Regions from separate parts of the Homo sapiens genome. Here region 1 is linked to region 2. Evidence: fine-mapped expression QTL. A gene starts in region 2. The other region holds a variant in brackets. All regions are shown on one strand. Distances are from middle to middle.

Region 1 (8,000 bases), 100 kb before region 2:
TAGACTGCATAGTGCAGAGATTTTGGTGGCAGGGCAGTGACTCCAGACCCACATTGAACGCATAAGACGTTGAAACCCAAAGATGTGAGGTGGCATGATTATGGTCACACAGCAACAGGCCAGGATTAGAACACAAGTCTTCTGAAAAATATGTAGCAGTCTCAGCCTTGTGGGTTCCTTGAGATTGCCTTGTCTGCCGTGAGACTGTCAGGGTCATTTTGTTCCTTAAGAAAGTTTTAGGGGTCTTCTTTGTGCCCATTTATGCAAGGCACTGGAGAGGGTAGGCAGGGTTAAATCAGCCTCTGACCTTAGGAATTTACAGTGTATCAAGGGAGACATACTACCAAAAATTACAATACAGAATAGCAAGTGCTGGGGGTAAGTATATGATGTGAGGGGAAGGGGGAGTGACTATACAAGCACAGAGGAGGCACTTAGCCCAATCCGAGGGTCAGGGAATCACTCCCAGTGAAGCTGATATTTAAGCTTAATCATGAAGGACCAATAGTTGTTAGCCAGATGAAGAAGGACAAGGAATAACATTCCAGGCAGAGAGAGGAAACCATCCTCAACTAAAAGTCTAATGGTTATGTCAGTAGCCCCAGTGACATAATTTATCGTGTCTATATTCGGTCACTGTTCGGGACAGTTCCCACTACTGGGGAATGGTTCCCACTGGATGGATCATAGCCTGAGTGGAGAGAATAAAAGCAGATGAGGCTGGCCATGTAGGAACATACAAGGAAGGTGGAAAGGCCAGGGGCTCTGAGTATCAAAGCCTGAGTAGCTGTATTCTATGAACTCCAAGCACCACTCCCCCGGGTATTGGAGCCTTGATAGAGCTCCTCGTTTCCTTGGTTTCAGGCTTCCTGCAAAGAATTATGAGTTTGAGCTGGGCACAGTGGCTCAATGCCTGTAATCCCAACACTTTGGGAGGCCAAGGCGAGAGGATCGCTTGAACTCAGGAGTTTAAGACCTGCCTGGGCAACATAATGAAACCCTGTCTCTTAAAAAGAAATCTGTGAGAATCCAGTTAAGTTCCTTTTACAGATACCATCCAGGGGCCTGACTTATTTATCTATCTATTCCTTTAGGGTTGGGGATTTGTTTTGTTTTTACCCTTAAAGCCTTAATGTGGAAAAGTGCCTGAAGTGCTGATTGTAGGGAATGAAACTTGATTCAAGGTTTAAACACCTTATCCCAGCCACTCGGGAGGCTGAGGCAGGAGAATGGCGTGAACCCGGGAGGCGGAGCTTGCAGTGAGCCGAGATTGCGCCACTGCACTCCAGCCTGGGCAACAGAACGAGACTCCGTCTCAAAAAAAAAAAAAAAAGGGTTAAACACCTACAGCTCCTTATGAATTAATAACCCACTCAGTGCTCAGTGCCTGGCAAGCTGTAACTTTCCTTCTCTTCCCATAGGCCTGCTGAATTAGCCACCAAGTACGCAAACTTTTCAGAGGGAGCTTGCAAGCCTGGCTATGCTTCAGCCTTGATGACGGCCATCTTCCCCCGGTAAGTGCTCCTGTTTCCCTCCACTGCCTAGACAGCCTGGTCTGGGGTCCAAGAGCCAGAAACTCTGCCTCTCACAGCCAGTCATGTTCTCCTATGCTCTGGAAACCATGGGTTCCTGGAAAGGACTCTGCCTTTAAGTTGGTTCCTACTCCAGTCCTACTCCATGCCGTTGCTTTGCCTTACTCCCATCCTGCCTCTGGAGCTTGCACCTTGTGGCACAGCCTGTTTCTGCAGAAGGATAACCTACATGGTTGCCGCATGCAAGCCAGGTATCCAGAGGCAGCCAGAGAAGGCTGCCAAGCACAGAAGCTCCTAGACCTAGTATCAGTGGCCAAAGAAACTTTTTTGGAAGCTTGGACCAACTAGCTGGCTTCAGGGAGGCATATCCAAATAAAGCAGGGAACAAAGAGAAATTTCTGAGGCTGTCTTGAGTTTTAGCACTTTCCTTCTCTGTCCATTTTGCATTCTGGAGCTGCTGACTTCTTTGGCACCTGAAAGAATCTGTGCATAACCCAGGGAGTTCCTTTTACCGAATGCTGCTAAGGGGTCTTGCTTACTGATCCACCTTCTCCTTTTTGGTTTTCTTTTCTGAAGCCTTGGTGTGGAAAAGGAGCTGAAGTGCTGAGATTGTCTTTGGAGTGCAGTGAGACTGTCAGGGTCATTTCGTTCCTTCTGATTTGGAGGGGCTGAAGGAAAGGCTGCCTAGGATTGTCTGGGCACTTGGACCACCAGAGGAGTGCTAGGGGTGGGCTCTGCTCACTGGGGGAAGGACTTGCCTCCCATCCCTTAGAAGGCTGAGGTTAGGACACGTAATGTGCTTGCAAAGGAATGCTGAGAAACAGCTCGCCCCAAAGTGACTCCGGTATATTTGGTTTTTATGCTCCCTTTCTTTTCTAACGTGAGCAGTCTCAGCTTAGCTCCTTGTGTAAAGCAAGGGCTATGCTGGCTGAGTATCTGGTGCTCAGATAGAGATCTCTTTGTCCAGGGTCTGCCTTCTGAATTGATTCCAAATATTTTGCTTCCTCCAGCTATTTATTGAGTGCCCCTGTGTCTGGCTTTTTGTGTTCTGTATTCTTAACACAGGTTTTTGCAAGCCTATACGACTCAGTCCTTAGCCCAGACACTTGTGAGTTTTCCTTTACCAGTATATAGGTTTCGTTTGCTTTTTCTAATTGAAAGTAATACAGGCATGTGGAAACAAAACAAAACAAAAAAACCTCAAACAGTACAAAAGGTTATATACTGCCACTCCAGACTCCTTCCCCAGAGACAGCCAATATTACCAAAAGTGGGAACATAACTGTATTTAATATTCTGTACTGTGTATTAGGCCGTTCTTGCATGTCTATGAAAAAACATCTGAGACTGGGCAAATTGTAAAGAAAAGAGGTTTAATTGGCTTATGGTTCATCAGGCTTTACAGGAAGTATGGTGCTGGCACCTGCTTCACTTCTAGGAAGGCCTCAGGAAACTTAAAATCATGCCAGAAAGCAAAGGGGGAGCAGGCACGTCATATGGCAAAAGCAGGAGCAAGTGAGTGAAGGAGAGAGAAAGAGAGGAAGTGCTACGCACTTTTAAACAACCAGATCTCACAAGAATTCACTCATTTTCACAAGAACAGCACCAGGGGGATGGTGCTAAGTCATTCATGAGAGACCACCGCCATGATCCAGTCACCTACCACCAGGCCCCATTGGAGATTACATTTTTTTCCCTTCCTTTTTTTTTTTTTTTTGAGACAGGGTCTTGCGGTGTTGCCCAGGCTGGAGTGCAGTGGTGCGATCTTGGCTCACTGCAGCCTTGACCTCC[G/A]GGCTCAAGCAATTAGCCACCTCAGCCTCCCAAGTAGTTGGGACTCCAGGCGCATGCAACCACACGTGGCTAATTTTTGTATTTCTGGTAGAGGTGGGGTTTTGCCATGTTGCCCAGGCTGGTCTCAAATTCCTGGGCTCAAGCGATCCACCCACCTTGGCCTCCCAAAGTGCTGGGATTACAAGTTTGAGCCACTGAGCCTGTCTGGGGATTACCTTTCAACATCAGATTTGGGCAGGGACAAATATTCAAACTGTATCATTTTGTCCCTGGCCTCCACAAATCTTATGTCCTTCTCACATTTCAACATACAGTCATCCCTTCTCAATAGTCCCTGCGAAATCTTAACTCATTCTAGCATTAACTCAAAAGTCCTACTGTGGTCCTGTGATCTCGCCCTGCTTCCACTTGCCTTGTGATATTCTATTACCCTGTTAAGTACCTGATGTCTGTCACCCACACCTATTTGCACACTCCCTCCCCTTTTGAAAATCCCTAATAAAAACTTGCTGGTTTTTGTGGCTTGTGGGGCATCACGGATCCTACCAACGTGTGATGTCTCCCCCGGATGCCCAGCTTTAAAATTTCTCTCTTTTGTACTCCGTCCCTTTATTTCTCAAGCTGGCCGACGCTTAGGAAAAATAGAAAAGAACCTACGTGATTATCAGGGCAGGTCCCCTGATACTAAGTCCCAAATCTAAATTCTTATCTGGAAATGAGTTCCTTTCACCTATGAGACTGTAAAATCAAAACAAGTTGCTTACTTTCGAGATACAATGGGGGTATAGGCATTGGGTAAACATCCCATTCCAAAAAGGGGTAATCAGCCATAAGAAAGGGGCTATACGCCCCATGCAAGTTTGAAACCCAGCAAGGCAGTCATTAAATCTTAAAGCTCCAAAATTATCTCTTTTGACTCTGTGCCCCACATTCAGGGCACACTGGTGCAAGAAGTGGGCCCCCAAGATCTTGGGCAGCTCCGCCCCTGTGGCTTTGCAGGGTGCAGCCCCTGTGGCTGCTCTCATGGGCTGGCGTTGAGTGCCTGAGGCTTTTTCAGGTGCAGGGTGTAAACTGCTGGTGGATCTACCATTCTGGGGACTAGAGGATGGTGGCCCCCTTCTCACAGCTCCACAAGGCAGTGTCCCAGTGGGGACCCTGTGTGAAGGCTCCAATCCCATGTTTCCCCTCCACACTGCCCTAGTAGAGGTTTTCTGTGAGGGCTCCACTCCTGCAGCAGGCTTTTGCTTGGGAAGCCAAGCTTTTCCATACATCCTCTGAAATCTAGGTGGAAGCATCCAAGAATCCTCCATTCTTGCACTCTGTGCACTCTTAATACCACATGGAAGCTGTCAAAGTTTACAGCTTGCATTCTTCAAAGTGGCAGCCTGAGCTGTACCTTGCCCTTTTTGAGACATGGCTAGAGCTGGAGCCGCCAGAATGTGGGGAGCAGTGTCCTGAAGTTGCATAGGGGTGAGGCCCTGGGCCTGACCCATGAAACCATTTTTGTCTCCTGGGCCTCAGGAACTATGATGGAAGGGGCTACCTCAATAATCTCTAAAATGCCTTTGAGGCTTTTTCCCTATTGTCTTAGATATTAGCATTTGGCTCTTTTTTAGTTATGCAAATGTCTCTAGCAAGTGGTTACTCCACAGCCTGCTTGAATTCCTCTTCTGAAAAAGCTTTTTCTTTCTTTGCCATGTGGCTTGGCTGCAAATTTTCCCAATTTTTATGCTCTGCTTCCCTTTTAAATATAAATTCCAACTTTAAGTCATTTACTTGCACCTGTATCTGAGTGTAAGCTGTTAGGAGCAGCCAGTCATATCTTGAATGCTTTGCTGCTTAGAAATTTCTTCTGCCAAATATGCAATCATCACTCTCAACTTCAAACTTCCACAGATTCCTTGGGAAAGGGCACAATGCAACCAAGCTGTTTGCTAAGGCATAACATGTTATGACCTTTGCTCCATTTCCCAATGAGTTCCTCATTTCAATCTGAGACCTTGTTGGCCTAGATTTCATTGGCCATATCCCTATCAACATTTTGGTTACAACCATTTAACCAGTCTCTAAGAAGTTCCAAACTTGCTCTCATCTTCCTGTCTTCTTGTGAGCCCTCCAAACTCTTCCAACCTCTATCCATTACCCGGTTCCGAAGTCACTTCCACATTTTTAGATATCTTTCTAACAATACCCTACTCCTGGTACCAATTTTATGTATTAGGCCATTCTTGCATTGCTACAAAAAAAAAATCTGAGCTCTCCATTTGCCTTCTGCCATGATTGTAAGCTTTCTGATGCCTCCCTAGGAGGTAAGCAGATGCCAGCACCACTCTTCCTGCAGAACTGTGAGCCAATTAAACCTCTTTTCTTTATAATTTACCCAGTCTCAGATATTTTTTTTAGAGGCCGGGCATGGTGGCTCACACCTGTAATCCCAGCACTTTGGGAGGATGAGGCGGGCGGATCACGAGGTCAGGGGATCAAGACCATCCTGGCTGACATGGTGAAACCCCGTCTCTACTAAAAATACAAAAAATTAGCTGGGCGTGGTGGTGTACACCTGTAGTCCCATCTACTTGGGAGGCTGAGGCAGGAGAATCGCTTTAACTTGGGAGGCGAAGGTTGTAATGAGCCGAGATCACGCCACTGCACTCTACACAAAGCAAGACTCCATCTCAAAAAAAAAAAAAAAAAAAAAGTTTACATTCACTTTTTGCACATGGATGTTCAGTTGTTCCAGAACCATTTGTTAAAGACTCTGCTTTCTCCATTGAATTACCTTGGCATGTTTGTTGAAAATCAGTTGAACATGTATGTGTAGGTCTCCTTCTGGACTCCCTAGTCTATTCTGTTGATTTATGACTTTGTGCCAGTACCATTCATACATGGACAGTCTTGTCGTCTGTTACTAAAGACAGTTTTATTTCTTCCTTTTTCATCTATATGTCTCATTCCTTTTTCTTGCCTTACTGCATTGGCTAGACTGTTCAGTGCAGTATTAAATAGGTGAGGTGAGAGTGAACAGCCTTGCCTGTTCCCAGTCTTAGGAGGAAAAGATCTAGTCTTTCACCATTATGGTGTTAGCTGTAGGTTTTTCATAGATACCATTTTTTAGGTAGAGGAAGTTCTCTTCTGTTCCTAGTTTCTTGAGAGTGTTTATCATGAATAGATGTTGAATTTTGTCAAATGCTTTTTCTGCATATTTTGAGAAGATCATATGGCTTTTCTTTTTTAGTCTATTAATATGATGAATTACATTGATTGGTTTTTTCTCATTAATTGATTTTTGAATGTTGAACCAATCTTTCATTTGTAGGATAAACTTCATTTGGTCTTGGTGTATTGTTCTTTTTACACATTGCTCTATTCAATTGGCTAAAATTTTTCAAGGATTTTTGTGTCTTTGGTCATGAAAGATACTGGTCTGTAGTTTTCTTGTGATGTCTTTAGTTTTGGTAATATAGTAATGCTGGCTTCAGAATAAGTGGGAAAATATTTCTTCATCTTTCTACAAATTTTGTGTACAATTGGTAATATTTTTTATGAAATGTTTGATAGAATTCACCAGCAAAATCTAGGCTTGTCTGAAGAAAAGACAGTTTTTTATCTCTATTCTCATGCGCCACTGAACACACTTCTGACACCAGATGTGTGGCAGTTTTTCTCACACATCAAGCAATTCTTCAGCAGACACTAATGGGTGTCCTATAATTCAATTCAATTCTGGCATTATCCACCTGGAGATGGCGTCAGATCCCACAGGTTGACGGCCGAACAAGACTATACCTCACTTCAGATGCTAATCACAAGTAGTAGGTTGTTACCTATACATCTCGCCAACCAGCTATAAGTTGTGAATTCCAAGACCATCCCCTCTTGGGTTTGATCTGTTTGCTAGAGCAGCTCACAGAATTCAGGGAAACTTATGTTTATCCATTTATTATAAAGGATATCATAAAGGATACGGATGAACAGCCAGTTGGAAGAGATGCATAGGGCATGGCATGTGGTAAGTGGTTCACAAGTCTGAAAGCTCTCTGAACCTTGTCCTTTTGGGTTTTTATGGAGGCTTCTATAAACCCTGTGGAGGATTACATAGGCATGATTCATTGCATCATTGACCACTGGTGATCAAATCAACCTTCAGCCCTTTTCCCATCCCCGAGGTCAGAGGGTGAGACTGAAAGTTCCAGCCCTCTAATTGCATAGTTGGTTCCCCTGCCAACCAGCACCCAACATAAGGCTATCCAGAAGTCATCTCATGAGAACAAAAGATATTCCTATCACCCAGGAAATTTGAAGGAATTTAGCAGCTCTCTGTCAGATGTGCTCTTATCAGTCAGGAAATTACAAAGGTCTTAAGAGCTCTGGGTCAGAAACTAGGGTCAGAGACTAGACTAACTATTGGTGGCCGGGCACGGTGGCTTACGCCTGTAATCGCAGCACTTTGGGAGGCCGAGGAGGGTGGATCATGAGGTCAGGAGATCAAGACCATTCTGGCTAACACGGTGAAACCCCGTCTCTACCAAAAATAAAAAAAAATTAGCCGGGCGTGGTGGCGGGCACTACGGTGGCGGGCGCCTGTAGTCCCAGCTACTCTGGAGGCTGAGGCAGGAGAATGGCGTGAACCCGGGAGGCAGAGCTTGCAGTGAGCCAAGATCGTGCCACTGCACTCCA
Region 2 (10,261 bases):
AAAAGACACCAGAGACCTCAGCTATGGAGCCCTTCGGACCCACTTCTCACAGACTCTGGCACTGGCCAGGCCTCGAACCTGGGACCCCTCCTCTGATGAACACTACAGTGGCTGAGGCATCAGCCCCCGCCCAGGCCCTGTAGGGACAGCATTTGAAGGACACATATTGCAGTTGCTTGGTTGAAAGTGCCTGTGCTGGAACTGGCCTGTACTCACTCATGGGAGCTGGCCCCTATTTATTATTTCTAAGTTATTTATTTACTTCTGTGGCTTGTCAGATCCTTTCCTGGGCAGCAGGGGGTTGGGAAGAAGAGGCTGGATGGAGATCATGCCTTGCTGATCGCACTCACACACCTCAGGCTGACTCAGCAATCACAGACCTGGCCTGGATCTTCGGCCCCCACCCAGCAGCTCCGGGATGGGAGGCATGGAACACAGGCAGGGGCAGGGCGGGCAGCAAGGGTGCAGTCACTAGTCCTGGCAGGCTGCTCACTTGGGCCTGGGCTTACCTCTGGGGAAAGAGACTACAGAGGCTTCTGTGGAGAAAGCCCTGTCTCTGTGACCTCTGGCATCTTTGTGGCCCCCGCTTAGTGGGTAAAGACACAGAGAAGCACCCATTGCCCCACCCCACTGTCATTGATCAGTGTCTTACCATCCAGGGAATTGTCTTGAGGGTGCCTTGTCAGATATACACATGCCTCTGCTTGCAGACAGGCCAGCATGGTTAACTCACTATCCACATTCCATGAAGCAGCCCAGGGCATGAGGGCATCTGAAAAAAACCGAGGGTTGGTAGAGGGTGCGGTGGGGTGCTGGCTCCGGTGAGCAAAGCACAGAGCTCCATGTGGATAAGGAGGCAGGAAAAGATAAGGGCCCCAGCAGGATCTGCATCTTGGGTGATGAACAAGGATATTCATTAATTCAAACAAATATTTATTAAGCACCTATTATATGTCAGATACTGATTATATGACAGATGCCAAGGATACAGAAGTGAAACAGACATGATCCCTGCCCTTGAGAAGCTTCAACCAGGAGAGACAGACAATAAGTAAGCAATTACAGTAATAATTATTTAAATTCAATTTGGCAAATGGTACGAAAAGGACAGGAAGCTAAGAAGTCCACACCTTCGTGGGGAAGAAAGGAGAAGTTACTGCTGACTCTGGCCTCTCATACCACCCCCAAGTCACCTCCAAAAGGCCAGGGCTATCCCTAAGCTTTTCTGGATATCCTTTCAAACCTTGTTTCCCATGTCCTATGCATTTGTATTGGGGAGGCCTCTATGATTTTTCTTTTTTGGAAATGAGATGGGGGCATGGATTTGGAAAGGATGCTAAGTCTGAGGAACTGTGGGACATCCAGAGGGGTTGTCAGGAGGCAGTGGGATCTGCTGGTCTAGAGCTGCCGAGGGAGGTCTGGGCTGGATTGATGTGACAGCTGTCAGCACAGAGGCAGGAGCTGCAGCCGGGGGTGAATGAGAGTACCATGAGAGATGGAGAGGGTCGAGGGCGAGATCCCTCAGGCATTTGACGCTGCTGAGAGAAATTCCTTCCAATCCGCCTGTGTGCCTTCCTGCTTTGGCACAGATGCCCCCTTCACCCAGGCTAGAGTGAGGAGCTGGCAAGAGCTCTCTGAAGGCTGTGCCCATTCTGGGTCAAGGAGGAGAAACGTGTGTGTGCTCCCACTCTTCTGCATTCACTGCCCCAGTTCTAGATGCTCCAAAAATTTCGATGCCTTTGCTCCCTTCAAACACCCTGTTGGCCCCTCTCTGCCTCCAAACGGATTCGGGATCCTTAGTTCCACCTTCCCTCCTGCAAAGAAAATGGCCCCAGGGCCATACAGTTTACAGAGGGCTGGCTGCAGGCAGAGAAGGACATTCTGTCAATTCCAGGGTTATTGGGGCCAGGCAGCCCCCTGCTAGTGAGACTTTAAAGCCTAGCCTAGTCCCCAAACCCTGCCACTCAGTAGACACGGCTGCTCCAGAGCCAGTAAAGGAGACTGACTGAAGCCATCTCTGACAATGCTCACAGTGAGAGGGCCACAGCCCAAGCCAAAGGTGCTGGCTGTCAACATTCCCCAGGCTGCCAGCTTTTGAGGGAACAGGGCTCACCCCAGCTGGAGGCTGCATTCTGGGCCCCAGACAGCTTGTGCTCAACATCTCAGAGTCCGGAACAAGACAGCAACAGCTCCAAGAACACATTCCCATATGAATTAGCCTCAGTTTGCAACTCAGGACAACCCAAATCAAAAGGAAGACAGTGAAGGAGGGAAGGAGGGGAGGGAAGGAAGGAGGGGAGGGAGGGAGGGAGGGGAGGGAGGGAAGGAGGGGAGGGAGGGAGGGGGAGGGAGGGAGAGAGGGAAGGAAGGAAGGGGAAAGAGAGAGAGAAAGCAAGAAGCAAGCAAGAAAGAAAAGGTTGTTTTCCCCAAAGGAAACAGGCTGCAGAGCTGTACCTCTGTTTACCACATAGTAGCTATAACCTGTCACCAGGTGGCACATTGTAGCTCCTGGGGCCACAGGTGACTCTGGTCAATACTAAAGCCAAAGGCCATTTAGTCCTTTGAAGTCTCAGAAGCATTCGATAGTGTCAGTCCTCCTTGAAAACCTGTCTTCCCGTGACTCTCTTGGTCCAATACTCTCCGGGTTCTCCTTCCACTCCTCCAGAGGCTTGTTCTCAGACGACTTCTGAGTTCCTCTTCCTCTCTCTGCCTCTCATGTTCCTCAGAGCTCTGATACCGACTCTCTCTCCTCTTCCCATTCTACTCTCTCCCTGAGCAGCACTGTCTACTCCCGTGGTTTCAGTTACCACCTCCATGCTAACCATGCTCACATTTTATCTCCAGCCTAGAACATTCACCTGAGCCCCAAGTCTGTAATTCCAATACCTCTATCTGTATATCCTGGGAGACATCAAGCTTAACATATCCATACTGGATGTCTTCCGTTTCCTCCTTCAGATCTGCTGTCCACCCTTCTCCAGCCTGCTCTGCTCCTCACATCAATGAGCTTCCCTGCTGTCCAGCTTCCAGACCCTCCCCAGTGTTCCCTGCTCAGTGAGTGCACCAACCTCATCCAGTGACACAGCCAGAAACTTGGGCAATCTCCTAGGCTCCTTAAGCTCTGTCATGTCCCTTAAGCATTGGTCACCAAATCCTTAGATCCTGCAGATCCATCCCCTTTCCCTATCCCCAGTGCTATTCTGCTGAAGCCTTCATAATTTTTTGGATGGTTTATTCCTCATCCTCCTACCTGGTCTCACTGTCTCCAGTCACAACTCCCTCCAACCATTCTCAGCGCTGCAGCCAGATAAGTTGCCTTCTCTTCATATTAACCGAGCATGAACTGTCGTGCACTGGGCTAGTTTCAGGGATTCAGAGACCAGTGAGAAACATGTTTTGCCATCAAGGAAACTATACTTGGAGATGGAAGTAGGGGTAGGGTAGCAAATAAAAGTAAAAGACATCCTGTTAAATTTGGATTTCAGGCCCTGCGTGGTGACTCATGCCTGTAATCCCAGCACTTTGGGAGGCTGAGGTGGGCGGATCATGAGGTCAAGAGAGTGAGACCACCCTAGCCAACATGGTAAAACCCGGTCTCTACTAAAAATATAAAAATTAGCTGGGCGTGGTGGCACGCACCTGTAGTCCCAGCTACTTGGGAGGCTGAGGCAGGAGAATCGCTTGAACCCGGGAGGCAGAGGTTGCAGTGAGCCAAGATTGTGCCACTGCACTCTAGCCTGGCGACAAAGTGAGACTCTGTCTCAAAAAAAAAAATGGATTTAAGGTAAACAATAAATACACCTTTTTTTTTTTTAGATAGGGTCTTGCTGTGTCCCTCGGGCTGGAGTGCAGTGGTGTGATCTCAGTTCACTGCAACCTCCACCTCCTGGGCTCAAGCGATCCTCTCACCTTAGCCTCCTAACTAGCTAAGACTACAGGTGCATTCTACCACGACTGGCTAATTTTTAAATTTTTTTAATTTTTATTTTTTTGGTAGAGATGGGCTCTTGCTATGTTACCCAGGCTGGTCTCGAACTCCTGAGTTCAAGAGATCCTCCCACATTGGCCTCCCAAAGTGCTCGGATTACAGGTGCGAGTCACCATGCCTGGCCTAAATACTTGTTTTCAGTATGTCCAATGCAATAATTGAGACATACTTATACAAAAAAATTGGCTGGGCGTGGTGGCTCACCCCTGTAATCCCAGCACTTTGGGAGGCTGAAACAGGTGGATCGCTAGCGCTCAGGAATTCAAGACCAGCCTGGGCAACATAGTGAAACCCTGTCTCTACCAAAAATACAAAAACTTAGCCAGGTGTGGTGACGTGCATCTGTGGTCCAGCTACTTGGGAGGCTGAGGTGGAAGGATTGCTTGAGCCCAAAATCGTACCACTGCACTCCAACCTGGGTGACAGAATAAGACTCTATCTCAAAAAAAAAAAAAAAAAAAAAAAAAGGCTGGGAGCAGTGGCTCACGCCTGTAATCCCAGCACTTTAGGAGGCCGAGGAGGGCAGATCACGAGGTCAGAAGATCGAGACCATCCTGGCTAACATGGTGAAACCCTGTCTCTACTAAAAATACAAAAAATTAGCTGGGCGTGGTGGTGGGCGCCTGTAGTCCCAGCTACTCAGGAGAATGGTGTGAACCTGGGAGGCAGAGCTTGCAGTGAGCTGAGATCGTGCCACTGCACTCCAGCCTAGGCGACAGAGTGAGACTCCATCTCAAAAAAAAAAAAATTGTTGTTTATCTCATATTCAAAATTAAATAGATGGCCAGGTGCGGTGGCTCATGCCTGTAATCCCAGCACTTTGGGAGGCCGAGGTGGGCGGATCACGAGGTCAAGAGTTTGAGACCAGCCTGGCCAATATGGTGAAACCCTGTCTCTACTAAAAATACAAAATTAGCCGGGGATGGTGGTGCACACCTGTAGTCCCAGTTACTCAGGAGGCAGAAGAATTGCTTGAACCTGGGAGGCAGAGGTTGCAGTGAGCCGTGACACTGAACTCTAGCCTGGGTGACAGAGCAAGACTCCATCTCAAAAAAAAAAAAAATAAATAAGTGTCCTGATTTTTTTCTGGCAACCCTAGGTAGGGGTAAACAAGTACCCCAGTAGAAGTATGACTGAGGTTATAGGTATGTGTGTCAAGGAGGGGGCAGATTCTACAATCACAAAGGAAGAGGAATCAGTTTTTTCCTGGATAGACGCAGAAGAGGAAAAGTCTTTGTGGAAAAGGTGGTATTTGAACTGAGTCTTGAAAAATGAGTTTGTTTGCACAGGGTGGATTATAGGGTGGATGAGAGGCATGGAACCCGAACTGGTTATTGCTGATTGCCTTTATTTCCTCTCACTTCTAAATGTACACTGTTCATTGTGGCCATGTCCTGTCCTGCACGGTGTGGTTCTCAGCCCTGGACAGGAATGGAGTGGAGAGGTGAGGGCCTCTTCCTTGGGCTCTCCATCTCAGCCTGAAGACTCTGCTAGTCCTATATTCTTTAGATTTTTATTTGTTTATTTATTTATTTATTTACTTCTTACTAGCCAGTTCATCACAGCTTCAATTCCCTGTTACACTTCAAAATGCTTATGTTGAACTTTCCCTGCCTGCTGACTGTGTGATGTCTCTCTCCTGATGGCATCCAGAATGACACAGAGCCTTCTCAACAGAGGAAGTAGCATGAACAAAGACAGGGAAGTGTGAAACAGCCTGGTGCGCTCCCAGGATTGCCAGCAACTTCAGGTGGACTTGGGGAGGGTCCTCATCAAGACAAAAGACTGGAGAGGTCACAAAGGGCTTTGAATGTTATACCGAGAAGCTCAGCCTTCGCTCTGAAAGGAGCCACTAAAGGGTTTTAAGTGGGCTTGGTTAGAGATGTGTTTCAGATGGATCACTTGCTACTGTGTCTAGTATGGATGGAAGAGGCAAGGTGGGTGCCAGCTAGAGCTGCCATAGTTAGAGCCGTTCAGGCAACAAGCACAGGTACCTTGAGTTAGGGCAGAAGCAAATGTGCAAGGACAGAAGAGATGTGAGGGACAATAAGAGAGGTGAGGGCTGGATGAGAGATGGTTTCCAGGTGTCTAGCTTGGGGGACTGGTACAGAACACAGGGGATGTAGTATTTTAGCATGTGATAGGGGTAAGATGTGGGGAAAATGTGAGTTCAGTTTTGTACATGTTCAACTTTGGGTGCCTGTGGCAACTTCAGAGGGCCAGGAGGCAGCTAAATATGCAGGTTTGAAACCCAGGACAGTCTGGGCTGGAGAAATCCAAGGAGTCACAGCTTGAAGCCAGGGGAGTGGTGAGATAATGAGGCATAAGACAAGAAGCGGAGACTAAGGAGGACCAACATTTAAGGAACAGGTGGAGGAACAGGGATGGGCCAGTGAAGGAAACCAAAAAGGAGTAGTCAGAGTGTCGGGAAAAACAAAACCAAACAGAAGAGCTGAGGGACTGGTCAATAGGGCCAGATGCAGCACAAAAATCAAGCTGCATCAGAACCGAAAACTGCCCGTTAGGTTTTCTTGCAACATGGTGGCCTAAGGACTTGGGCTAAACTTCCTCCTGAAAACAACTTTAAATACTAGACTCTATCTATCTTTAAAATTAAATGCATCCATAAGCTAGCAAAAATGTAAGAAACACACTGAGGCCAAAAAAGTAAATGAAAGCAAGAAGCTACAAAGGTAAGCAAAGCTCTGTCATTGGCTTTCATCTTGAGGGCAGTTGCCGAACCCAGAGAACCTGATCATTGGTTTTCAAGGGGTCTCTGGGCTTATGAGAAAGACAAAGCCCAGGGCCCCCTCACCATGGGGAGTCTATTTAGAAACTTCTCCATAAGGCCAGGACCTCAAAGGCCAGTGTATGCCTACACTGTGAAGGTGAATTAGAAAGAAACCTGCCCCTGTCTGACCTAACCTCTCTCCCTCAAACCAGGGGACTACAAAGAAAACTGCCTACATCCAACCTTGGTACTAAGAAAGGGGAATAATCTCCCCCTGAGAATTCTTTTTTTTCTTCTTCTTCTTTTTTTTTTTTTTTTGAGACAGAGTCTCGCTCTGTTGCCCAGGCTGGAGTGCAATGGCGCGATCTCAGCTCACTGCAACCTCCACCTTCCAGGTCCAAGAGATTCTCCTGCCTCAGCTTCCCAAGTAGCCGGGACTACAGGTGCCCGCCACCACACCAGGCTAACTTTTGTATTTTTAGTAGAGACAGGGTTTCACCGTGTTAGCCAGGCTGGTCTCGAACTCCTGACCTCGTGATCCACCCACCTCAGCCTCCCAAAGTGCTGGTGGCATGAGCCACTGCGCCCGGCCTCCCGCTGAGAATTCTTAACTGCAAGCAGGCAGTCGTCTGGTTTTGCAGACCAAATTCACATGATTTTGGTAGGCTGAAAAACTTCAAAGTGATCATTTAATTTGACATGAACATGGATTGGTAGTGGTTCCAGGTGACCAACAAAAGCTCCCTCTCCTCCTCTGCTGAGTTTTGGGATGTTCCCTCCTGAATCTGCAGACCTCTCCCAGGGTTGCCACAGGTTCTTGCCCCTATAGGTCTACACTTGTTCCTTAGAGAAGAAAGAGCCCTTCTGGCTCCCAAAGACTTATCTGCCACTTGGCTCTGAGCTATCCTGCACTAACATCCAAATCTCCTGGAGATCACCTTTGGTCTGGCCTCCGGAAATGCCCCCAACTCTCCCCAGGGCCTACTTCAGTCCATCTGTCCTAAATAGTGTTTGCAAAGGATGTTCAGGAGTCATTGCTGTGAGACTGGGCTTCTTTCTCTGCCAGATCCCTGGAACCTCCAGGGATGAGGAGGAGCCCTGGATGGGAAGCAGGAAGAAAACACATACTGACTAAGTTGTGGTCTCTGGGCTGAGCCCCCCACCCCTAAAACCCCTTAACTAAAATGAGTTTCAGAAGAAGCTAAGGTCTCATTGCTAGAAAGAGGCATAAACAGGTTTTGAACTCAGGACTAAGTCCAGAATTTGTGCATTTAAACCCCACTCCCAACACCATCTCCCCTGCCCACCACCACCTCCACCAGTGAAACCGCCAGCCAGCACCAGGCCCAAGGTATTTCACACCCTAGGCACAGGCCTGGAATCAGTTACTTTATTTTGGCTTTCTATTTCCTCCTTCCAAATGTCTCCTGCCTCTCTTTCTTCCTTCAATTTGTCTTTCATGTTGCAGATTTTTCTAAAATGCAAATGTAATCATCATTGCTCACTTGAAACCCCATCATGGTTTCATATTGCACTTAGGATAATGTCCAAACTCCTACAAGAATCTATTGCCACCAACTTGTCTTTCCAACCTCATCTCTGTTACTCATACCCTTCCCCTTCCCCACCCCACATATATTCTCTTAAAATGAATATAAATTACTTACTATTCTTTCTTTTCTTTTCTTTTTTTTTTTTAGACGGAGTCTCACTCTGTCGCCCAGGCTGGAGTGCAGTGGCGTGATCTCAGCTCACTGCAAGCTCCACCTCCCGTGTTCAAGCCATTCTCCTGCCTCAGCCTCCCGAATAGCTGGGACTACAGGTGCCTGCCACCATGCCCGGCTAATTTTTTGTATTTTTAGTAGAGACGGGGTTTCACCGTGTTAGCCAGGATGGTCTCGATCTCCTGACCTCGTGATCCGCCCGCCTCAGCCTCCCATAGTGCTGGGATTACAGGCGTGAGCCACCGCGCCCGGCCTACTTGCTATTCTTTATTGATGAAGACTTGCTGAATGACTTAGAGTCCTACTGGATTTTGCTTACCAGCTAAATGGGCCCCTCTCCTTCCCAGGCTCTCTATTCTTCAAGCTCAGATCAAGTTTCTCTTCTCAGGGAAGCCTTCATGGACCTTCTCAGGCCTCAGCAGCTGCTGCCAATGCCAGCTTCCAATGCCAGCTTCCTCCATTTGAACAAAACTACGGAGCTCTTTGCACTTTTAATTTTTTCCTCTTCCCTGCTAGGGTAGCTGGCAGGAGTTAATAAACAATAAAATACAACTGGAGGGGTGACAGGCAGGAACTACCGGGGCCTGTGGCAGACCAGATCTATGGCATGGTCTGCCACCCTGTCTGTGTGCCAGGGGCAAGATAAGCCTAACTTTCCCCAAGCTCGATTTCCTCATCTCATCTGAAAATGATGAATAAAAATATCCACCTCAGAGCTATTAAGAAAACTGAACCTAAGGTAAGCAAAGTCCTGCTCCTAGCACTTAAATGTAAGCTACTCTTACTCTAGTTACACATAAAGTTACTTCCAAAAACCTTACGAAATTCCCCGAGCACTGTCCATGGTATGTGGTTTCCCGGTTGCTTATTGGGTGGTCCCGAGAGCCTTCCTTTTTTCCTTCCTGAGGCGTGCCAAGTCCCCTCTCCTCTTCTCTGGGTGGTGCTGACGCCTTCTTCCCAGGCTGCACCTTTGCTGGGCCGGAGGATGCCCCCGGCAGCGGAGCGCCAGAGTGACCAGGCAACCTCCCCAGCCTCCACCCTCTAGCCCGGGCTCCCACCTCCGTCCTCCGGCCCCTCGAGTCACGTCGTCCTACTAAGGAGTTGGGCCGCAGCGCCCCGCGCCGGTCTGACCCGGAATGCCTGCTCGCCGCGGTAGGCCGAGGACAGGCGGGGCTCTGCAGGTCCCCAACCCACGTGCTCCCGGCCTCCTCCGCAGGGCGCCGCCTTCCGGCTAGGCGCAACACGGACTACATTTCCCAGGGTGAACAGCGGCGGGGCCTAGACTCGGCCGCGGCCTGGGGCGGCGAGCCGCTCCACCGCCTGCTCAGGGGAGTGCGAGCTGGCGCGAGGACAGGGCTAAGGACCCGGAATGAGTTTCCGCGCAGTTCCGCTGGGCCGTGCCGGCCTGTACCGGGCCGTGCCGAGCCAGAACTGGCAGGAGTGGGGGCCTGAGTTGGAGGTGCCGGGGACAGGCGCTCGGGGCAGCCCGCGCCTTGCCGAGGTCCCTGCCCCGTCCCGGCCGGCCTGGCTTGTCTTGTCAGTCACTGGGGCGGAGGCAGCGGCTGTAGCGGGGCTGTAGCCGGGCGTTGAGCACAGCGCGGGCCAGGCCGAACGGAAGGGACCTGCCACAGCCCCTCAACTCCACGGACTCTTCGCCCTAGACTAGCGGAGCTGCATCTCCGCGCTTCGTTGGACGCCTCCGTAACCACGAAGGGCTCTCTCTCTCCCGTGACCCTCCAGCCCCATGACCTGTTCATAGCAGCCGAGAGCTCACCCAGGCGGGGGTGTTGTGGGTACAGGCCATCGACCCTGTGACCC

Direction of the effects. Alleles are on the strand shown, and positions count from the first base shown. SD is a standard deviation of normalised expression in the study named.
For the expression in spinal cord of the gene that starts at base 3,562 in region 2, G is the low allele of the variant in region 1 and A is the other (large effect, 1.0 SD a copy in GTEx).

What was found. PIP is the estimated chance that this variant, and not a neighbour inherited with it, causes the effect.
Region 1: its variant is fine-mapped to the expression of LINC02918 in spinal cord (GTEx, PIP above 0.99).

Annotation. Positions count from the first base shown.
Region 1 is chr1:43,836,798-43,844,797 of GRCh38, forward strand. ST3GAL3 (ST3 beta-galactoside alpha-2,3-sialyltransferase 3) reads left to right here. Exons shown (of 12, transcript NM_006279.5): 5 at 1,422-1,514. MIR6079 (microRNA 6079) reads left to right here and starts at 1,825; the gene lies at 1,825-1,886. RefSeq lists enhancers at 3,885-4,873, 4,874-5,862. The variant G/A (reference allele first, on the strand shown) is at 3,324.
Region 2 is chr1:43,936,980-43,947,240 of GRCh38, forward strand. LINC02918 (long intergenic non-protein coding RNA 2918) reads right to left here and starts at 3,562. Exons shown (of 2, transcript XR_947283.2): 1 at 3,251-3,562; 2 at 917-1,814. It overlaps ARTN (artemin), which reads left to right. Exons shown (of 5, transcript NM_057091.3): 5 at 1-261. It overlaps LOC101929609 (a long non-coding RNA gene), which reads right to left and starts at 9,620. Exons shown (of 2, transcript NR_188535.1): 1 at 9,502-9,620; 2 at 7,376-7,817. It overlaps IPO13 (importin 13), which reads left to right and starts at 9,971. Exons shown (of 20, transcript NM_014652.4): 1 at 9,971-10,261. RefSeq lists a silencer at 9,767-10,016.